Linked DNA regions of Homo sapiens. The protein of the gene in region 1 purifies or fractionates together with the protein of each later gene. This does not show direct contact. Each region holds a gene or a part of one and is shown in the gene's direction. Other genes may lie near its edges. The genes, in order: MKLN1, MMADHC and SYT1.

Evidence for each region.
Region 2: the proteins of MKLN1 (region 1) and MMADHC purify together in Homo sapiens (affinity purification with mass spectrometry; one large-scale study listed by BioGRID and IntAct). This does not show direct contact.
Region 3: the proteins of MKLN1 (region 1) and SYT1 purify together in Homo sapiens (co-immunoprecipitation; one large-scale study listed by IntAct). This does not show direct contact.

The regions. Positions count from the first base shown.
Region 1 is NC_000007.14:131,397,280-131,400,936, forward strand, and holds part of MKLN1 (muskelin), read left to right. Parts: coding exon 1-97; intron 98-1,958; exon of another isoform or gene 1,959-1,961; coding exon 1,962-2,154; intron 2,155-3,657. UniProt on the Homo sapiens protein: Component of the CTLH E3 ubiquitin-protein ligase complex that selectively accepts ubiquitin from UBE2H and mediates ubiquitination and subsequent proteasomal degradation of the transcription factor HBP1.
Region 2 is NC_000002.12:149,585,548-149,589,304, reverse strand, and holds the start of MMADHC (cobalamin trafficking protein CblD), read left to right. Parts: upstream 1-1,529; 5' UTR 1,530-1,641; exon of another isoform or gene 1,642-1,947; intron 1,948-2,155; 5' UTR 2,156-2,207; coding exon 2,208-2,216; intron 2,217-3,757. UniProt on the Homo sapiens protein: Involved in cobalamin metabolism and trafficking. Plays a role in regulating the biosynthesis and the proportion of two coenzymes, methylcob(III)alamin (MeCbl) and 5'-deoxyadenosylcobalamin (AdoCbl). Promotes oxidation of cob(II)alamin bound to MMACHC.
Region 3 is NC_000012.12:79,298,170-79,301,826, forward strand, and holds part of SYT1 (synaptotagmin-1), read left to right. Parts: intron 1-1,214; coding exon 1,215-1,382; intron 1,383-3,657. UniProt on the Homo sapiens protein: Calcium sensor that participates in triggering neurotransmitter release at the synapse. May have a regulatory role in the membrane interactions during trafficking of synaptic vesicles at the active zone of the synapse.

The DNA.
Region 1 (3,657 bases):
CTGGGGACCCAGCTTTAACTTTAGCATCTGGTATGTTGAACTTAGTGGCATTGATGATCCTGATATAGTACAACCTTGTCTCAACTGGTATAGCAAGGTAGGACTGTGTTTTAAATCCTGACTTTAATGCCTATAAAAGGAGAAATATGTCAATCTCTTATCTTCATTGAGAATAATTTAAAATATTCAAAATAATAATAACAACAGTTAGCTAACATTTTATTAAGCACTTCCAGTCTGCCAGCTTTTAAGGAATCCTGATAACTCACTTAGTCATTATCACTCTATGAGACAGGTGCACTTATTATCCCCATTAGTTTATAGATGAAGAAATGAAGAACAGAGAGATTAAATAGTTTGCCTAGGATCACACAATTGTAAAGTGTTTGAGCCAGTATATGAATTCAGGCAGTTTGGCTCCACAGTCTGCTTTTATGTTATTATACCCATTTGACTCTGAATTTTGTTTTTTCACTTGTATTCATATAAATACTTAAAACATAGTTTTTAGTGGGATAGTTTTGCAGCCTAATGGAAAATTTAAGATGTGGATGTGATTTAGACTCCTAAAGTAGTCAACAGGGTTAAAAAATACTGCTGTTTAATATAACTGTAATATATATTGTTACATGGTAGTTATGATAAGTCTTTTTTAGAGGCCAAGAGTAAGTTAATTATAGTTAACTAATTATAATTAAGTTGTTAATTAATTATAGTTAATTATAACGTGTAAGGATTAGGTGTTTAATGACCTTTTATTAGTTAAGTCAGCTATCAACTGATTTGTTTCAAATCTTATACATCTTCCTAAACACATTATTTTCTTGCCTTATTAAAGGGTCATGCCTATAAGTAAATCATTGTTGTTTGATTATCATGCAGGCTTCCATGTCATCTGTTTGTTTGAATAGTGGTATACTTAGGAAGTTTGAGGTAGTCCCAGAACATATTCCTGAAGTTGAGATTTTTTTAAAAAAATCCTTTTTATAAGATTGTATTTTTGGCATCTATCCTATTAGGGGAAAATTTTAATAAATTAAGTGCCTGCTTTTTGGATTCCAGTTAATTGAGATGTCTACTTTATAGCTGCTTAATAGATGAGGTAGTTCAGGCTTAGAAAACAATTAAATTGGGCCGGGCGCAGTGGCTCACACCTGTAATCCCAGCACTTTGGGAGACCAAAGTGGGCAGATTGCCTGAGGTCAGGAGTTCAAGACCATCCTGACCAACATGGTGAAACCCCGACTCTACTAAAAATACAAAAATTAGCTGGGCGTGGTAGCGCGTGCCTGTAAGCTCAGCTACTTAGGAGGCTGAGGCAGAATTGCTTGAACCTGGGAGGCGGAGGTTGCAGTGAGCTGAGATTATGCCGCTACAGTCCAGCCTGGGAGACAGAGCAAGACCCTGTCTCAAAAAAAGAAAGAAAAAAAAAAAGATTAAATGTCTCTTTTTGATGATTTTTGAGTCATAAAATGTGTTTGTAAATTTGAAATATCTGTATACTTGATACTTGTCATTCAAGTAATAGTTTATTTTTAAAAACCAAAAATAGCATAATATAATTTATGTGGATTATTTAATGTTCTTTTGTGCTCTCAGTACCTGCATTGTAATGGGATTAATAGATGCTATGGAGTTATAATTTTTACAGTATTAAGTGGAGTTTAAGAAATAGATGTTCTCCCTTTCTTCAAAGTTGAGGCTCTGGAATTAGGTTTGGTTTAATAACTTTTGGCTACATATTTTGTGACCTTGAGCAAGTTATTGGAACAGGCCAAGCTTTAGTTTTGCTAGTTAAAAGAGCCAAATAATGATACCTAATGAATCAGGTTAGTAAACTGCTTGGCACATAGTGTTAATAAATGCTCAGTGTAGATTAGTTATTTTTACTGTTGTTATTGTTTCCTACAGTATCATCTAACCAAATCTCTTCTTTCCATACTTACTCTGTGTTCTAGTAGTACCGTGAACAGGAAGCTATTCGCCTTTGCCTAAAACACTTCAGACAACACAACTATACAGAAGCTTTTGAGTCACTGCAAAAGAAAACCAAGATTGCACTGGAACATCCCATGTTAACAGATATTCATGACAAGCTGGTGTTGAAGGGTGATTTTGATGCTTGCGAAGAGTTGATTGAAAAGGCTGTAAATGGTATGAAACTTAGATTGGTTATTAGGGTAAATTCAAGTACATACGGGAAACTTTTTCTCAAAAATAATATAGGCTTATGCCAGTTATTACTGTAATTTTTTTTCTTGGTTTTTTACTCGGTTAAAGATTGTTATCTCTTTGGATTAGGGACTTCTTTCATGTAAAATAGATCCATGATGTAATGAGACTTAAAAAATTGAAATGTACTTGAACTCACATATAAATTTAAGTTGTCATCTTGGGAAACCATGCACTTACAAATGATTAACTAGCATTAAACTGTATCAGAAATAATATTTTGATATTGGTAGCCAATATTCATTAACAGTGTAGTTTTGAGGAGAAGGGGGGCTAGATAATAAAAAATGTTATTAGTAAACAATTATATATAAGGAACAAGGAGATTTGTATTGAAAACAACTTCCTTGTGGTGTGAATGCTATATAATTGCTGATTTTCTTGTGTGACCTGTAGTCTGGCTTTGAAAGAAATGTGAATAGTTGAACATCTGTATTATCTCCCAGGGTATTGGCTTTGGAGGGTAACACTCATTTGGATTTTTAAGGTCTGATGTGTTTTGTTATTTAAACTAAAAAGGGACTCTGTTGTTGCTTATAGTATGACTTTTTTTTTTAATCTTCCTCAGTAACTTTCATAGTGACAAACAACAGAATAGTTGCACAATATAAAACTTGTGGAATTGAATTTGGTGCATCCTTTATAGGAAGAAATAAGAAATAATAGATTATTCAGTGGTTTGCTCTCATTTTAATTTTATCACTGTTATTATCGTCTATTATTAGGTATTCATATTTATCAGATATTGGGTAGCTAAAAAAAAACCAGACTTGTACTGCCTTGAGTTTATAAATTTAAAGTTAACTTAAAATGAATTGCTTTGAGCTCCACTTTTTGAAATATGACAAATCTGCTTCTAAGCCTTGTGCATTGTTATTGCTTACTTGATTGATGATGATACTTGCAAATAAATGATAGGTATGTTTGAAATTGAGTATATTTTGGAGTATAAACAAACAAATAACTAATCTCTTAACAGACTTTAAAATGCTACCAATAAAAAAAAAATATATATATATATATATATATGCCATTTCTAGGAGTGAATTCTGTGGGTTTTTTTTAACCTCATAAGATGAGGGAGGCATAGGTAATTTTAGGGCTTTTTTGTTTGTTTCAGATATTTATCAGTAAGGCATTTGATACCATTTTGTGAAGGGAAAGCAAAACAACAGCCACAGGCAACTCTACAGTTAATAAGCTAAAAACAGTTATATTTTAAAGGTCTCTTTAGTGACGTACTCAGTTGGTTAAGATTAGCTGATAAAAATCTTGTGCAGTTTTGATATCTACAGAGACTTAACTTATCCTTTGGCTCTAGAAAGGAACCAAGTTTAGAGAAATTAGTAGTTGCTCAATTCTTGAAACTTACAGCCACATCATAGTTTTTGTACTGTGAATACTATGGGCTTTCTAAACTGGCCT
Region 2 (3,757 bases), on another chromosome or scaffold:
CTGTGTAGCTGTCAAAGATACAGATGGATACATATATAAATACTTACAGATATGCGTATTTAGTCAGGTTAGCATATCCACAAATATTTCCTTGCTCTGTCAGCTGAGAGTGTCTAGAAGCAACAACATCCCAAATGTCCAAATCTTGATTTCTAATATCATTTTCCATTAAAAGTACCCTTGGCTTTTTGGGGAAGCAGCTGATTCTAGGATTGGGGCAGGGAATATACAAGATGAGCCTGGAGCAACTTATAGAAATTAAGAAAATGCTCAAGAAAAAAAATCAATAAACATAAAACGAGGAGGGTTTGTCAAAAAGACACAAATGCCAACTAAAGGAAATCTCAATAGCCAAAGCTGGAACCAATATGAACAACAAAATAAAGTAGTATTGGATTATAACCCAAAATGTAAAATAAATATCCATGAGTCCATACTGACATAAATGATTGAATACATAAATAAATGCAGTACAGACAAATCTCCCATGCAGAAGAATTCCAAATAATTCATGAAGATATTCTGTCCTCATAAAGGTGGAGTATAACAATTTCCCATTCCTATAGTTTGGGCTGCACAGAGAGATGTCCTTCCAAATAGTATAGTATGGAGAGGAAAAGAAAAACAGTAACTTCACAGTGGAGAAACCTGACAAACCCTACATAGGGAGGTGGAAGGGCTTACTAGATGAAACAAAGGGGATCTTTGTAGAACTATAAAACTTTTCTGTATGACACTGTAATAATGGTGATAAAGGTTAGCATCAACAGTAATAAGTCATGTTGATAGTATATACCCTTGATGTGATGTGATGAGAAGATCACTTTACCTTACCTCTTAACTCAAGAAAAACCCATAACCTCAGTTAATGCATGAGAAAAATACAGGCAAAACCCAATTGAAGGACATTTGACCAAATGACCAATAAGTCGCTTCAAAACTATTAAGGTTATCAAAAACAAGGAAAGTTTGAGAAACGGTCACGGTCCAGAGGAGCCTGGAAGACATGGTGATGTACTCCGGACAGGATCCTGGAATGGAAAAGAATACCAGGTCGAAAACTAAGGACATCTGGAATAAAATATGGGCTTATGGGCTTTAATCAATTTTTAAAAAAGTATTAGATACATGAAAATGATACACGATTTACAAATCAATCGCCTAATATTTATCGAGCATATTGAGAGCCTGGCACTGTGGTAGGGCTGGGGACACAGAAAGAGGTAAGTGCCCTATGCTCAAAAACAGCGATTCATGAAAAATAAACAACTATGACAAAAAGAACAGAAGACTGTATCTCCTGGAGGCAGTAAGGAAGGCTTAAGTTGGGAGGACTATCAAACGCATCAAGGAGTTACTGAAGATTAACTGACCCGCCTAACGCAGGTCGGAAGCCCTCCTATCCATCCACCCAAATCACCCCTGCCCCACCTTTTCTCCTCCCTTGCGTTTACCCAATGGCAGGTCGGCTCCACGTAGGCCTACTTTGCGCGTGCGCATCATCGTTTCGACGCGCTCGGAAGCAACTTCCTTTGCCTGCTCACCGCCAGCGTAGGTGCTACCACCGCTGCCGTCGCCGCCGCCATTTTGATGGCAGGAAGAGTCCGGTTCTGGGACAGCTGGAGACAGTGGTGGTGACTGGTACGGATGGTTTCCGCCCATGTTAGCCCCTCCAAATTTGCCCGTGTTAGGGTTACAGCCCTCGGTATTGCCCGTATTTTCACTGGGTCCCTGTCGTTGTCCCCAGCCATCCTGTCCGTCTGTCTTTAGTCTCTTTTCTGCTTCCTCATCTTTCCGATCAGCCTGAAGCTTTGCTTGGAGCTGTTGTTACGCAGCCCCAACTTCTGTTAAAGCAGCCGCTTCGATCCTCTGGACTGAATTTTGGCCACCCAGCCCCCATTCCCCTCCCGGATCTGGTCCGAGTTGTTTTTCCGCGGCTGTAAACCGGAAGGGCTCTGAGCTGCACTGCCGGCTCCGGGCTGGGGGATCTGTGCCTGGCATGGGGGCGAGTTCTGGCCTCCTTAGGGTACGGGGAGAGCTTGGACTTTGGTCCTGACGTGGTGGACGACACACCTTCGAAGAGTGGACGTTACCTCAGTTGTCTGTTGTTAGAGTTTAATCGATCACTCGTCTGTTTTGTTGTGTTCTTTCCCAGAAATAACTTTACCAAAGGAAAGCTATTTTGCGAACTATCTTCTCCAGCGGAGATGGCCAATGTGAGTAAATTATCTCTTAAGAATCAGCATAGTAAACTCGTTTGGGAATGTTAGGAATGAAAGAACGGGTTTAATTATGATGGCATTGGGTGGTATAGTGTTAGATATAATGTATCAAAAATGTCAAGGGAAGCAAGTGGTGTGAAATTATGTTATGCTTTGAAGATGGTAGCATTCTTTGCACTGCAAATACACTTATTTATACAATTTCATTTGTACAGATGTGGAAATTCAAGCACCCTTTCGGTATTTTTTAAATACAGCGTTTCAGTAAATATTAGAATCTATGTTTAGGCCCTTTTTTAGCTTTTGGGTTAGCTAAACTGAAGGGTTTTTTTAATCTTTTTTTCTTTTTTTTAAAACAGTTTCCATATTGGAAGTGACCTTCTAAATCCTACAAAATAAGAATAGGAGATACTCTCACACACCAGAGATATTTATTGACTGTAACTTTGCAGTGATTAGACACATCCTATCTATAGAATTCATATGTAGCGGTCATAAGACATATATAAAAACAGCTACAATTAAAGTATAAAGTAATAATTTTTTTTAGAACCTACACGAAGGTGCAATGCAGATTCAAGTCTTTGTGGAGAGGAGTTTGGGATCACTTCATGAGGGAAACATTTAACTTGAGGTTTGAAAGATAGGTGGGATTTGTATAGTCTAAAATATGAGCGGGAAGGACAGGAAGGTATATTCAAAGAACTCCCCAACCCGCCTACCCCTTTGAAAAACTGAAAAGTGACTGCTGCCTGCCAACCTGAATGTAAGCTGCATGAAAGAGATAAGTGGGAGATAAGGTTGAATTGTGAGGTTGGTACCAAGTAAATGAGAGCCTTGAATGCCGAACTCAGTAATTTAGACTTCATTCTTTAAATTGTGATTATTCACTTAGAGCTGTGTGCTAGGAAGATTTATATGGCAGCATTTAGCCAGGATGCTATTTCTGTAATTGAACATGGTATATTAAGTCTAAAGTGTGACTATAGAGACAAGTCATAAGAATAGATTACTAGTCTTGGCCAAGTTCTATGGTGAATTTTTGCCTGCCCATAACCTGCACAGAAAGAGAATGCTGTAAAAGAAGTATGTGGTACTTTCAAAGGAGAGAAATTAATTGAAGTAGAATAGAATGCTATTATTTGACCTGGTTTTATTTTGGTTTAAATGAATAAATTATAATAGTTCAGTAGGGAAGATCCTTTTATAAGTCTTTTGTTAGAAAGAAGTTCATATTAAAATAAATTTAAGTTTCAGTATCCAAATGTACGATAACAATTTTTGTGTTAATTTATATGGATTGTAAATTGTGGATGGATGTTACTAATGAAATATGCAGATAGTGTTTCATAACAAGGGGCAAGAATGTTCATGTTTCAGAGTCTAGACAGGTACATTAAGAAGCCTTCATGGGGACTGTGACAAAGCCTTTCTGAACAAAGGGGAGCAACCTTTCCTTAGCTACAGTGATTTGTTGCTAACTAATGCCATTTGGTTATGTGAATCCAATACTGCCAGATCTTCTGAGTTTTCAA
Region 3 (3,657 bases), on another chromosome or scaffold:
GAGATTTTAGATATACAATAACATTTTCAAGGGTTTATCCTTACTCTAAAAAATTTTGTTTCTTTCTTTGAGAGTCAGCTCTTTGGAAGGGTTTATTTTCCATTCCTTCTAAAATGGAAAAAGGATGATGCTTACTTTTTAATCATATCATTTTAATAAAATAATCAGGTTCCAAACAGATGGTAAATAAATGACAGAAAAGAAAAACTCTTTGGAAAACTAAAATTTCTTGTATGTAGATGGCCCAATATTCTTCCTTTTCTTCCCTCCTTAATATACAGAGTTAATTGAGAAATGTTTGCTGAAGCATAAGACAACCATTTACACTGATAAAATAATAGGAAGTGTATGAAAATTGATCAAACCTTTAAGACAAGTCTAAACAATTTCTTAATTAGGTATTTCTACCCAGTTACTGAAGTGTAGCTTACTTGGATTGCACTGCTTTCACTGAATATTAAAAATGTCACTAATAAACATCCCAACCCATAGCATCTGTCCCAGATATATTTGAACAGCTGGAGAATTCATCAGTTCTTGGCCTTTTGCCACCACTCATCCTAAGGCATGTCATACCCAAGAATGAACTTCAAAACCCATATTATAATGCACCTCTTATATTCAAAACATCAATTTCCTAGTCAGTTCTTGTCAATCAGCAAATTATTTTAGGGAGTAGGTGAGGCACTTGTGAATATCATTTCAATCCTTTCAGACTCCTAGCATAGCCTTTAATAAATCATTGCTCCATTGAACTGTGGCATTTAAATGCCTTGAAAGAGTTAATGGAGCATTTGAAATAAGTTATTTGCCCCTCAGTAAGTTACACCCTGACAATACAACTTAAAACAACAATAACAACAAAATATTCTACAAGAAAAACTTACTTATAGTCAAATGCAATTGGCTTGTTTATTGTTTTATTAATCTTAAGGCTTTATAGTATAACTAACAGCAGGATCCATTATTAATAATGCTAACAGCTTCTAGAACTTTGAGATAAGGCAATAAATCACTAAAATTTCCCATTTTCTCTCAAGTAATTTTAGCCTCAAGCAGTTTGTCAAAAGTCTGAATTTAAAAAATAACCAAAAACAAAATTATCTCCCTGTTCTGTTTATGCAACGTAAATATTAAATTAAGCACCATGAACAAGTAACATGTTTTAAGCATTTTTGTGACTGGATATTTTATCCTCATGTCTTTTAATTTAGGTACCATACTCGGAATTGGGTGGCAAAACCCTAGTGATGGCTGTATATGATTTTGATCGTTTCTCTAAGCATGACATCATTGGAGAATTTAAAGTCCCTATGAACACAGTGGATTTTGGCCATGTAACTGAGGAATGGCGTGACCTGCAAAGTGCTGAGAAGGAAGAGGTAAGGGAATTACTAGCATTTCTAACATCACAAGCTGTACTCGCCAGTTGCTGCTCATATAATAACTTATTGAGAAATACTCTTTACAAAGGGGGATGTGGGCCTCTAGTTGTTGACAGCTGATAAAATAGGGTCAAGGGCACTGCACCACCTCGTTAAAAAGTGTACAGGTCTTCTGGGTGTTATCTGAAAGAAGAGAGACATTTGTGTACTGGATCTAGAAACAGCAACCCTGGACACAAACAAACACACATGCCCACAGGAACTCTTTCTAAAAGCTTACAAAAGGCCACACACACTCATAAACTACTGCTTTAAAATGACAACGAAAAATTATTTTATTTCTCATTTTTCCACAATCATTTTGTGTTTTCTGCATAGGTTATGTAGCTATTACACAGAAATAAAATGGTACTTTTTCCTTGATTGTTTCTGCATATCACAGACAGTTCATTGTTTCTCCTAAAGATACGAGAGCATGATTGGTCAAACATCAAATATAATTCACAAAGCCTGATATTAAATCCATTTTTTAAATGACTCACATTTTTATGCTACTCCTCACATTGTTTATTCCCAGTTTTAATAGTTTAGCCCAGTATTTTTCCATGACTTGAAAAGGGAAGTTCAATATGTTTAGTGCATTTAAGCTTCATAATAATCAATTGTATCTGATTATGCGATGCCTGCCTGGCACCAGCATTTTTCTCTGCAAACATTTCAGTAGACCAATACTAGAAAAGCAAACAACCCTTAGCTTCTCCAAATTCCTAAAACAACTCCTTTCGCAGTCACTCTTTAGTTCCTGACGTAAGGCTGTAATTACGCAAGAGATTGCTGACAGCTCAGTCATTTAGGATCTCCAGGTCCCTAGGATTCCCTGGCCTCTTGGGGTCACCAGGGAGATCAGAGAGAACGTCAGGCCTTCAGAGAAACTCAATCAAGTCCATCACCTGGGAATCCTCTCAGCCTAAGGTTTTCTGTGACCAATCTGAGGCTATGAACTTTATACCCCCTATATGATGAAATGAGGTTTTAGAACAGGCCTATTAATTCCCATGCTGAAATTGAACTTTTCACTCTAACATTGCTGTTTGCTATTTGATTTTACAAAATGAGTCAAAAATACTTAAGTTAAACTCTGCTCTTTTTTTTGGAAAAAAGTATGTATACTTATACTTTCCAAAAAAGAGAGCAGAGCTTAAGTATTTTTGTATATAATATTCATGTATACTTATTATATATATATATATATATATATATATATATATATTTACTGTCTCAATATCTAAGAATGTTGACTAACCTTTCTTAGACATTGACACAGATTTAGCCCTACTGTGGATATTCAAGAATACCCAGGAAAAATACCGAGTTTTAAAATTATATGATTTTATGGATAGTTCTTTCCTATAAGTGAACTAATAGTAATGTTACAGACATCTTCATGAAAAAAAAAATTCGATCATTCAGTTACAATGTTTATAATTATTTAACAAAGTAGTGGGATGTTTCATTGACTTTTTTGTTGAAGTGTTTGACTTTGTGTAAATTTTTTGGGTGATAAAGTAGGACCATAAGAAATGTTTATTAACTGATTGGTTTTATTAATTGACTGGTGTTTGGTTGGCTTGTTGGTTGAATATGAGAACATGAACCACTGGTACTTCACAATGCCCACTTGTGCAGGGTGCATGGTTCACACTTGTTACTTTCACCTGGATAATTATCAGGTGGTAATGACATCCAAGATCACACCCAGTGGGTTTCTGAAAAATTGTGCAATGTTTTTTTCTGAGCTAAGGGAATGTGGACCATTGAGCAAGTTTCCTCTTTCAGAAATCTTTGAGTACGAGCAGAGTTTGAAACTTAACACCAGGCTGACGGGTTTCACTCTAGAATCTAGGGGTTTAGGTAAACTGCCCATTCAGAATTTTAACCTAGAAAGTGGCCTAACATGATTTACCCCTTATCTTACTTACCGATGAAATAGAATAGAACATGAAGTACCCAGCATAGAGTCTGGCATATGGTAAATGTTCACTAAGTGAGAGGTCTCTCATACCTTTTTCTTGGTTAATTTTGTGTGTGTGTTCTCTTTCCCCATTTTGTGTGTTCATCTCCTCATTTGTTGTGTCTCTTCCCTCTATTTTTATCTACTTCGCTATCCTTTTTCTCACCATTGCACTTACTGAGTATCTGTAGGAGTTATTAATGGGAAATATTAATTTTATCATTACACTCGTAAAACTCTAGAGACTTTCCTCTTTGATTT